3 linked regions of the Homo sapiens genome follow. The protein of the gene in region 1 interacts with the protein of each later gene in a pairwise test. Each region holds a gene or a part of one and is shown on either strand. Other genes may lie near its edges. The genes, in order: NBR1, ATXN1L and METAP1.

Region 1 (3,650 bases):
TAGAGATGGGGTTTCAACATGTTAGCCAGAATGGTCTTGATCTCCTGACCTCGTGGTCCACCCGCCTCAGCCTCCCAAAGTGCTGGGATTACAGGCGTGAGCCACTGCGCCCGGCCTGATTTGCATTTCTCTAATGACCAGTGATGATGAGCTTTTTTTCATAGGTTTGTTGGCCGAATAAATGTCTTCTTTTGAGAATTGTCTGTTCATATCCTTTACCCACTTTTTGATGGGGTTGTTTTTTTCTTGTAAATTTGTTTAAGTTCCTTATAGATTCTGGATATTAGCCCTTTGTCAGATGGATGGATTGCAAAAGTTTTCTCTCATTGTGTAGGTTGCCCGTTCACTCTGATGATAGTTTCTTTTGCTGTGCAGAAGCTCTTTAGTTTAATTAGATCCCATTGTCAATTTTGGCTTTTGTTGCCACTGCTTTTGGTGTTTTAGTCATGAAGTCTTTGCCCCTGCCTATGTCCTAAATGGTATTGCCTAGGTTTTCTTCTAGGGTTTTTATGGTTTTAGATCTTATGTTTAAGTCTTTAATCCACCTTGAGTTAATTTTTGTATAAGGTGTAAGGAAGGGGTCCAGTTTCAGTTTTCTACATATGGCTAGCCAGTTTTCCCAGCACCGTTTATTAAATAGGGAATCCTTTCCCCATTGCCTGTTTCAGTCTATCCAATTTCTAGATTTATTTCTCATTGTCTTTGTTGTAAGATTTGCACATTTATCAGAGATTTGGGAATTAGTGTGCTCCTCTCTCTGACTTTTGAAACTGGTAATAGTTTACTTCTGTAGAAGGGGAGCAGGCTAGAGACTTTGTTTTCCTTTAGTACGCCTTCATACTGTGACTTTTTAAAAAATTATATACTTGTATGATTTCACAAAAGAAACCTCAAAATAATACACTCCAGGAAAAGTATTTTAAATAGAAAAAGTAACCTCTAACATCTCGGCTTGTGTTTTCTCCCAGTCGTTTCCACTTGTTCCATGTGACACAGACCAGCCTCAAGACAAGCCCCCAGACTGGTTCACAAGCTACCTGGAGACGGTGAGTGTTCTGTCTCGCTTGGGTTTTAACTGCGGTGTTGGCACAGGTGGAATGTGGAAGAAATAGAAAACTGAACCCAGGTGGCTGCTGCCTCTAGTACCGGTGAAGAGTGGTAGCTTATAATTTCCAAACTTAGAACAGTTCCAGTCGAGAAAGCTCTAACCTTTGCAGTGAAGTGTCAGAAAAAGAGGGAGTCTAATTCTAAGCATGTAAGGGAGAGGGACAACTCTCTGCTTGAGAAAAAGTTAGAAATTTACTTATCAAAAGGATGTTTTGATATTTTCTTCGAACCAGTTTAGCTGTGGAAGGAATAGACCTTTTGCTATGTTTCTGTCTATTCAGTAGCAGTTGTTTATTGTGTTTTTGTATTATACCAGAGACAGTTAGGTTTCAGATCTATTGATATCTTCACATTTTTTTCTGATATTGGAACTGAGTTTTTTCCCTACCTTCTGCTCCATATTCTAGTTCAGAGAACAAGTGGTTAACGAAACGGTTGAGAAGCTTGAACAGAAATTACATGAAAAGCTTGTCCTCCAGAACCCATCCTTGGGTTCTTGTCCCTCAGAAGTCTCAATGCCTACTTCAGAAGAAACATTGTTTTTGCCAGAAAACCAGTTCAGCTGGCATATTGCTTGCAACAACTGCCAAAGAAGGATTGTTGGTGTCCGCTACCAGTGTAGGTAAGCAGTTGCTTGGGAGTAGCTAGCTAGTGATAGACCTTACAGCTTTTACCTCCCTGGCTTTCTGTGTAGGTAAAGGGAAATTAATTGTACCCTGTTTCTGAGCATTAGATGTTGTAGCTGTGAGTTGGAAGCACAAGCTACTCTTCACCCACATGCTTTGTATGTTGTAACTATTCAGATTGTTGTGTTCAAATGTGCATTTGGATTAGCAAAGCCAGGCAAAATTATGTTCCCCTGAACGGACAAAATTAGATCACTAAGGGTAGTTCCTCGGTTGTTCCAAATGCCTTTTTTTTTTTTTTTTTGGTGACAGGGTCTCTGTCACCCAGGCTGGAGTGCAGGGTGCAATCATGGTTCACTGCAGCCTCACCCTCCCAGGCTCAGACAATCCTCCCACTTCAGCCTGCCAAGTAGCTGGGATCACAGACTGCCTTTTAATTATTTTTTTGGAGATGGGGTCTCCCTATATTGCCCAGGCTAGTCTCAAACTACTGGACTCAAATGATCCTCTTCTCCATGGCCTCCCAAAGTGCTGGGATTACAGACATGAGCCACTGTGCCTGGCCCCATGTACTTTCACATCTTACCTTCCTCCCATAGATTTTCATTTAAAATGGATATGGGTTAAGTGTTATTATCCTCATTTTATTAATGAGGAAAATTGAGGCATGGCATAGTCAGATGGCATGCTCAGGTTACCTGCTAGTTGGTACTGGAGCAAACATAGAAGTATGGTCTTATATCTCCCTACCCCAGGTACTTCCTATTCTGCCATTGTGTATTGTGCCATTCTTTCCCCACAGCCTATGCCCATCCTACAATATCTGTGAAGATTGTGAAGCAGGGCCATATGGCCATGACACTAACCACGTCCTGCTGAAGTTGCGGAGACCTGTTGTGGGCTCCTCTGAACCGTTCTGTCACTCAAAGTACTCTACTCCTCGTCTTCCTGCTGCTCTGGAACAAGTCAGGTAAAACCCTCTACATGGAGATGCTTATTCTCTGATTGACTTCTTGGTTCTGGTGACAGGGTATGAATCACAAAACTACAGATAGTCTCCTTAGTTCTGCTCATTTTCAATTGATGTGCAATAATGAAGACAGTTATCCAAAGTTAGTGAAATAGAAATAATAGCTATAAAAAGAAATTAAGAAACTAAAGTAGGCTGGGCACAATGGCCCATAACTGTTATCTCAGCAACTTGAGGGGCTAAGGTGGGAGGAGTGCTTGAAGCCAAATATTTGAGACCAGCCTGGGCAACATAGCAAGATCCCGCCTCTACAAAAAAAATTTAAAAATTAGCCAGGCGTGGTGGTGCGTACCTATAGTTTCAGCTACTTGGGAGTCTGAGGTGAGCAGATTGCTTGAGCCCAGGAATATGAGGTGGAAGGGAGCCATGATTAGACCACTGTACTCCAGCCTACATGACAGAGTGAGACCCTAATTCTAAAACAAAAAAAGAAATTAAACTGGAAGCTGACACTGATGGAAATTGCAATTGGCTCCACATAGCTTCAGAATTTATTTGTGACTTTCTTTTAAGACTTGCTTTTATTATCTCACAGGCTCCAGAAACAGGTTGATAAGAACTTTCTTAAAGCAGAAAAGCAAAGGTTGCGAGCTGAGAAGAAACAACGTAAAGCAGAGGTCAAGGAACTTAAAAAGCAGCTTAAACTCCATAGGAAAATTCACCTGTGGAATTCAATCCATGGACTCCAGAGCCCCAAGTCTCCTTTAGGCCGACCTGAGAGCTTGCTCCAGTCTAATACCCTGATGTAAGCCCAGGACTGGGGTGGGAGCCAAAACTTTAGGCCCAGCTCTCTGAAACTGGAACTTCAACCAATTTCCGTCTTATTTATTGGTAGCCCTTAACACCTAAATCTTTAAAACTTTCCATTATCTGGTCTTAGTATTTTT
Region 2 (3,650 bases), on another chromosome or scaffold:
CCCCCGTGCTGCTAGAAGCCTTGTAGGCAGAATGGTGAGGAGAGATGGGGAAGGGCTATGAAGCAGAGGATCAAGCAGAGTCCTGCAGATGAGAGTGCTCCTCCCCCACACACCCAGCCATAGACATCTGGAACAAAATCACCCTTTAAAGTGCGCATCTCTCACAAGAAGGGTTCTGGGTGGGAACCCTCTTATTTCCAACCTTGGGGCCTCCTGCCCTTCTACCACAAAAAAGAAAAAAAACTTCTGACAGTTTAACTGCTACTATAAGCTGTGGATCATCATTTTTGGCTCTTTCTTTACTCCCTCCCTCTGCCATCTGCTCCCAAAGCCTGGACTTTCTCTTGCAGGAGCTAGGGATGGGGAGGAAAGAACAGGGAGGCCCTGATTTTGGAATGTTTCTTCTCCTGTGTGCACCCCCTTCCTTCCTTGCCCCAGGCCTGCTGCTCCCCATCACAACACCCTCTGGGGTTGTCCTGAAAGGATGCCATGGGGTAATGAACAACAGATCCTGCCTTGGGAGGCTGACTTCATGCCTCCCCTTTCCCCCAAATCTCACTGCCAAGAAAGCCATTCCCTGCTCGGCGTGTGCAAATCCTCTGCCTGCTCACGGCGGCGAGGCGAGGCTCTGGGGTAAAGCCCCAGTCCTGGTCTGGGGAAGAGGTTCATTTTCCCGCATTGGAACGCCCTTCAATGGACAGCTTTACCTCCTGTGGAATGAAAGAGGGACGGAGCAGCGCAGCCCGTGCCTCCTCCCCTTGCATGCTGTATCTTTGGAAGCTCGGGGCTGGCCAGCAGGCCTGAGCACCGGACTCAGGCTGGGAAGGCTCTACCACACGGGAGCCCTCTCCTGCCGGCTGGCTCTTCCCCTCACTGTCACATAGCTCTCTGGATCCCAAGACCGTCCTCTCAGGCCTTTCTCGGGGGGGACCCAGCTGGCTTGGGGGAGCACAGCTGGCCTGAGAAACTGAGTTACTGTTCAAGCTCTGTAAACTGATAGAGATGCAGACATCTCCCACCTGTAGCCGATGGCAGGGCAGAGAGAAGAGTTGTGTCGTCCGCCCAGGGCTGCAAGAGGACCAACCCTGGCCATATACAAAGAAGGGGTGCTCGGGGGGCACTTCGATGCTCACTTTGCTCTGCTGCTCACCAACCACAAAATGCAGCATGACAAATCCAGGCCATTGGCTCTCCTGAATGTCCACGACCGTGCTAGAGTCAATCTTCAGCCCCCCGCTCACTTCGGCACTGCGCACAAAATCCTGGGTCTGGAGGTCCTCCACCCGCTTCAGCTCTCCCGTAGCCAGCTGGATGATGGCGCCTTTCATGAAATGGGAAGGCAAGTGAGAGGAGGTAATGGGGGGCGGCGTTGGCTCCTTGTCTGGGAAGGTGGCTCTGGCCTGCACGTCCAGACTTGATGCTACCAGGATCTCCGAGCCCACAGGCAGCAGGCCTGAGTCAGTTCCAGTGGGCACCAGGTTGCCATTGGCTACAACCATTGCTTTGGGTAAAGGTCTATGTTTTACTGGTTCCTGATGGGACTGAGGGTAGAACCCACGGGCCTGACTTTTCTCTGCCAGCTCTGCAGGGTTCCTGGCTGACCCTCGCCCCTCACCCTGATGGTCGGGGGTATGATGGGATAGGTTGAGGGGGCTGGGTTCCTCCTTCCTCTGAGCTGCCACCACACGATAGTCCTGAGAAGCTAAAGCGCCAACCACCCGCTGGACCTCAAGGTCAGTGTCCGGGGTCCCCCGGTGTGCTGGTGCTGCTACCTCTACCCGTGGAGTCTGAGAACCTGAAAACAACTGTCCATCCACCACACATTCTACCACTGGCACCAGTCCCTGGCCTTCACCCTTGCTGTTGGGGGAGTCAAGGGCTTCACTTTCCCGTCTTACTAAATTTCGCTCTCGTGGTCTCTGTCCTCCATTTGCAGCAGCTGCTTCCAGAGCAGACTGGCTCTCCTGAGGGGTAAGAACTGGGCTGGCACCTGCTGGAGGGGTTTCATGCAAAGTATACCCAGCAGGTAGCCTGGACATCTGATAATAAATGGGCATCCGACCTGGAGCAAGGTCCAGCGGCTGAGTACTTGAATGATGTGGCAATTGCCCAGATGGGGAGGTGGCAGAGGGAGCTTTGTTAAATGAGTGGGCCGGGGAGGGAGCCTGTGGGGGAGGAGTGGCTCCTTCAGCCAGAAGTGAGGCATATGGCACAAAGTGTGGAAGGTGAGAGGTGGCAAGGTTGGCAGAAGGAGATAGGAGGGGACTCGGTAGGAAATTAGGTGGCACAGCATAGGGAAGGCTATAAGGAGACCCAATGAACTGCAGCGAGGTGGATGGGAGCTGAGCATAGTGGAGTGGAGGATAGTGGATGCCTGGATGTTGAATTAGTGAAGACGCTACATTAAACGTTGGGGGCAAGGGACTCATATTCACCACAGATGGGAGTCCAGTTGGTGAAAAGGTGGCAGGCGGCACAGCCACCTTATACAGCATGCCATACTGGTCCACTGTCAGACCGGTGATGGCCTCAGCTCCATCACCCCCCAGGCTGACTCTGGCTCCTGCCTGGCTCTGCCCAGCCACCACAACCCCTCGGGACCATTCAGAAGCATCACTGGAGGGTGTGTGGTTAGTGGAGCAGCTGGTAGTTCTCCCCATATCCTCGCTGGTCACGGGGAGGTCTCGTTTCTTTGGTGGAAGGCATTCCTGACTCCTTTCATGAACAGGTTTCATATTGCTTTGTGGTGTTCCTGGAGCCTGGAAGGAGTCGACTTGCTCCCTGGGGCATCAGAAGGGGCTTCTCTGTAGCTTCCCTGTACCCCTCTCTGCTTCTGGCTGGGGCGCCCACATCTATTAGGGAACAAATCAGAGGCAAAGAAAAGTAACCTAGGGATGAGCCAAGACAAAGGAAATAGAAAGAACTGTGCCATGGAGGAAGATGTAACAAAGGGGACTGTTAGAAAATAAGGAGGAAAGAGAAAGGGGCAGACAAGGAGGCTACCCCCAACTCATCCAGCCTGGGACATGAGAGAAACAGTCGGGGAAATCACAAGGCACAAAGAGCTACAGGGACACGCATTCACCAATGCACAAATAACCTGTGGGCTCCACAAGCCCAGGGAGACCAACAGCTTCACGGTTAGTCATGTGTCTCATAAGCACCTTGTCTCTTTTCTGCCTTCTTCCCAAAGGGGGCTTTGAACACATGGTCTTTCCTGCTGGCTCTTTTGCTTTTTTTTTTTTTTTTTTTTTTTTTTAAAACACATGGAGTTTTGCTCTTGTTGCCCTGGCCACAGTACATGGTGCAATCTCAGCTCACCGCAACCTCGCCTCCCGGGTTCAAGCAATTCTCCTGCCTCAGCCTCCCAAGCAGCTGGGACTACAGGCATGCACCACCACGCCTGGCTAACTTTGTATTTTTAGTAGAGATGGGGTTTCACCATGTTGGCCAGGCTAGTCTCGAACGCCTGCCCTTGGGTGATCCGCCCACCTCAGCCTCCCAAAGTGCTGGGATTACGGGTGTGAGCCACAGCGCCCAGCCTCCTGCTGGCTCTTTTTCTTAAGTTTCTCCTTTTGCTACCAAACATGAATGTGCCACCTTCTTTCCTGAACATATGACCTCATCCTTGCTTCCTTTCTGTAGCCTAA
Region 3 (3,650 bases), on another chromosome or scaffold:
CTTTTCTTCCGAATATCTAGAGCTGGAATGAGCTTAGCTATGCACTTATGTCTGTCACTCCTATGAAATTTACTAAAACTTAACTAAAATTTTGCAAATATGCTAAACATGAAAAAGATTCACCTTAAAAAACCATGACTAAAACTTGATTTCAATCCACAAACTAAGTGAACAGTATAAGATCACATTTCCTATAGCACTTCAATTTCCAAAAAGGTAACTCAAAGACTGGTATAACTTTTGATTGCCTACCAACCAAATGATGCTCGTTTTTTTGTTGTTGTTGTTTTACAAATTCTACTGTAATGTAGGTATATTTCATGCCAAAACTTCATAGATGACCAGAAGGCCCTCAAACCAACAATAATCCACTAACTACACTGTGAGAACCACTGTTCTGGAAAAGGATATAGAATTAGCTTAGGATAGTTCAATTCTGGGTTCATGTACCAAATCCTGTACCATTATTATACGTTCCTGAGTAAGTCAAAATGATTTAAATTTTCGAGGAATATTTATTGAAGAGTAAACAGAAGGTAAAAAATTGAAAAGAAATTAAATTCAACTATAAGTGAATAAACAAATGACAGTACACCCATAACAGTCTTTATAAAGGATCATGTAAATGTAGCCATGACATGACACTACCAAAACACTGGTTAAGACATTAAGGATGAGAAAATTCTCTAAGATTATATGTATTATGGTTGCCATTTTTGTAAAAACATACACAACTGTGTGCACATGAATAAATACGCAAATATGTTCTTAAGAATACACACCAAAATTTCATAGAAATCATCTCTGGGTAATTGATTATCTTCACACATATTTTCTATTTTTCTACAATAAACAATTTATGAAATTATTTTTGTTTTGTTTTAAAAAGACTCATAATTTCTCTTTACCTCATCCTATCTTTTTGCTTATAAGAAGCTATGGCATTTGTACCTAAACTCAGCTAACTTACAGGAGTGTTTAAGGGTGGTCTGAAGTGACATGAGGAATTTAAAGAAAATCCCTATAAATAAAAACGCACAACATGATAATATCTCCTTTAATGAAGATGAATTCCAGAAACACCCTGCACTGGCAGGAATGTTGTTACTGACAGAGAAAGTTTCAGAGGGCAGGGTTGCATTTCAAAGATACTGCATGTTATAACGGCAATTCCTTCTCTACCTTCTAACTCCAACCTACAAGATGCTCAACAAGACTTTCTTCCAGCCAGGTGCAGTGGCTCACACCTGTATAGACAACACTTTGGGAGGCTGAGGCAAAGTGGAACTCAGAAATTCAAGACCAGCCTGGGCAACACGGTGAAACCCCGTCTCTACCAAAAACACAAAAAATTAGCCAGGTGTGGTGGCTCAAACTGGTGTTCCCAGCTACCTGGGAGGCTGAGGTAGGAGGATCACTTGAGCCTGGGAGGTGAAGGTTGCAGTGAACCAAGATCACGCCACTGCACTTCAACCTTGGGTTGACAGAGTAAGATCCCAACTCAAAAAAAAAAAAAGAGAGAGAGAGAAGAAAAACTGTCTTGTTATTTAAAAAAAAAAAAAAAAAAGACTTTCTTCCTGGATTCAGTTAATCATGTTACCTACCACTTCTTTTAAAGAACCTATTATTGGATTTGTCAAAAATGTTCATAAACAAGTAACATTTCCCCTCAAAGATTTTTAAGCCTTCCTTGGTACTGATTTTAATAACATTACATATGAGGTTATATGCACAATAAGGCCCAAATTTACTATATGCTCTACTAGGCACCCTGGATGCTCTCTTAGTCACCTTCTGCTCAACTCCATTGAAGAGGATGCTTCATTAAGCAAAGGAGGGGACTTACCCAAGGTCATGGGAGCAAAATCCAGGTCTCCTTCCACTTACACTATGCTTACTACCTTTTATGCCTTATAAATATAAATAGTTACAGATCACTCAGGTCCCTCCCAGCTGATCCTCTAACCAGAGGAGACAGCAACTGCCCTATGCTATTCACAAAGTTAAACATCAGCTAAAAAACTGAAAAGTAACTAAATTCAACCATAAGCAAATAAATGAGTGTATCAACAATATACTATACTATTCAGTGTTTACAAAGGATAATGTAAATACAGAATTTCTTTGTTTTCCATTGCAAGCCCACTGATGTCTTTTCTTTCATGTAAGGAAATGAGGGCCTACTGTGGGCAAGGCACTTTGGAAAATACAAAAATGAGTAAAACACACCCTCTGTCCTCAAAAAATTCTTACACACAAATGAAAAAGACATACATAAACTATTAAATAGGAAGGAAAACTTCTATTAATAAACACAATCGAACATCAAGAACTCTTGGAAAACTCAATTTTCAAGTAAAACTGGTTGTACTCCTCTAAAGAACAAAAGCTTTCCTTAAAATCAAACATCCTAGGCTGGCACAGTGGCTCATGCCTGTAATCCTAGCACTTTGGGAGGCTGAGGTAGGCGGATCACGAGGTCAGGAGTTACAGACCATCCTAGCTAACACGGTGAAAGCCCGTCTCTACTAAAAATACAAAAAAATTAGCCAGGCGTGGTGGTGCGCACCTGTAATCTCAGCTACTGGGGAGGCTGAAGCAGCAGAATCGCTTGAACCCGGGAGGCAGAGGTTGCAGTGAGCCGAGATCACACCACTGCACTCCAGCCTGGGTGACAGAGCAAGACTCGGTCTCAAAAAAAAAAAAAAAAAAAATTAAGCATCCTAGATAAAATATTTCTACTTTCCTAAACATAAAACAGTATAACAATAAAAAGAGCTAACATTCATTAAGTTTACTAATATGCTAAGAGCTTTACATACTTTGGATTTAGTCTTCATCAAAACCCTGAGATAGGTATTATTAATAGCCCCATTTTAAAAAGATACAGCTGAAAAAGAGAGGTTATTTGCCCAAGTCACATAACTAGTAAATGATGGAGCTGTGATTCAAACACAGCAGTATACCTCTCTATTTTGATGCATTTATCCATTAATTCAAACATTTAATGGCCACCTACTGCATACAGAGCATCATACTGGGAAATGAGAACAGGGCAGTGAACAAGATAGGATCATTCATGAAGTTCACCTTCCGACTAAAAAACAGACATTCTCGGCCGGGCATGGTGGCTCACGCCTGTAATCCCAGCACTTTGGGAGGCCAAGGAGGGTGGATCACCTGAGGTCAGCAGTTCGAGACCAGCCTCAACATGGAGAAACCCCATCTCTGCTAAAAATACAAAATTAGCTGAGCGTGGTGGTGCATGCCTGTAATTCCATCTACTTGCGAGGCTGAGGCAGGAGAACTGCTTGAACCTGGGAGGCGGAGGTTGCGGTGAGTCGAGATCGCACCATTGCACTCCAGCCTGGGCAACAAAAGCGAAACTCCGTCTCAAAAAAAAAAAAAATCCTCATTTTTCTAACAGGTGAGGTAATCATAGATTGCACAAAAGGTCATAAAGGAATAAACAAGGTGGTGTGACAGAGTAACTGGGAATGCCTTACTTCTGTTAATGGTGTGATAGAAAGGCCTCTTGCAGTTTTGTTCTGTTTGTTCCCAAAGACAAGCTGGCCAGACAGCCAGGCCAGGGACCAGAGCAGTAGAAAGAAAGACCTCCTAGTGATCACAGAAGTGTTAAGGAAAATCCC

What was found.
Region 2: the proteins of NBR1 (region 1) and ATXN1L interact in a two-hybrid assay, tested with the Homo sapiens proteins (one large-scale study listed by BioGRID).
Region 3: the proteins of NBR1 (region 1) and METAP1 interact in binary tests that used the Homo sapiens proteins (3 or more experiments, as listed by UniProt).

Annotation. Positions count from the first base shown.
Region 1 is NC_000017.11:43,188,074-43,191,723, forward strand, and holds part of NBR1 (next to BRCA1 gene 1 protein), read left to right. Parts: intron 1-968; coding exon 969-1,046; intron 1,047-1,514; coding exon 1,515-1,729; intron 1,730-2,535; coding exon 2,536-2,703; intron 2,704-3,298; coding exon 3,299-3,508; intron 3,509-3,650. UniProt on the Homo sapiens protein: Ubiquitin-binding autophagy adapter that participates in different processes including host defense or intracellular homeostasis.
Region 2 is NC_000016.10:71,848,826-71,852,475, reverse strand, and holds part of ATXN1L (ataxin-1-like), read right to left. Parts: intron 2,853-3,650; 5' UTR 2,736-2,852; coding exon 666-2,735; 3' UTR 1-665. UniProt on the Homo sapiens protein: Chromatin-binding factor that repress Notch signaling in the absence of Notch intracellular domain by acting as a CBF1 corepressor. Binds to the HEY promoter and might assist, along with NCOR2, RBPJ-mediated repression.
Region 3 is NC_000004.12:98,998,573-99,002,222, reverse strand, and holds part of METAP1 (methionine aminopeptidase 1), read right to left. Parts: intron 1-3,650. UniProt on the Homo sapiens protein: Cotranslationally removes the N-terminal methionine from nascent proteins. The N-terminal methionine is often cleaved when the second residue in the primary sequence is small and uncharged (Met-Ala-, Cys, Gly, Pro, Ser, Thr, or Val).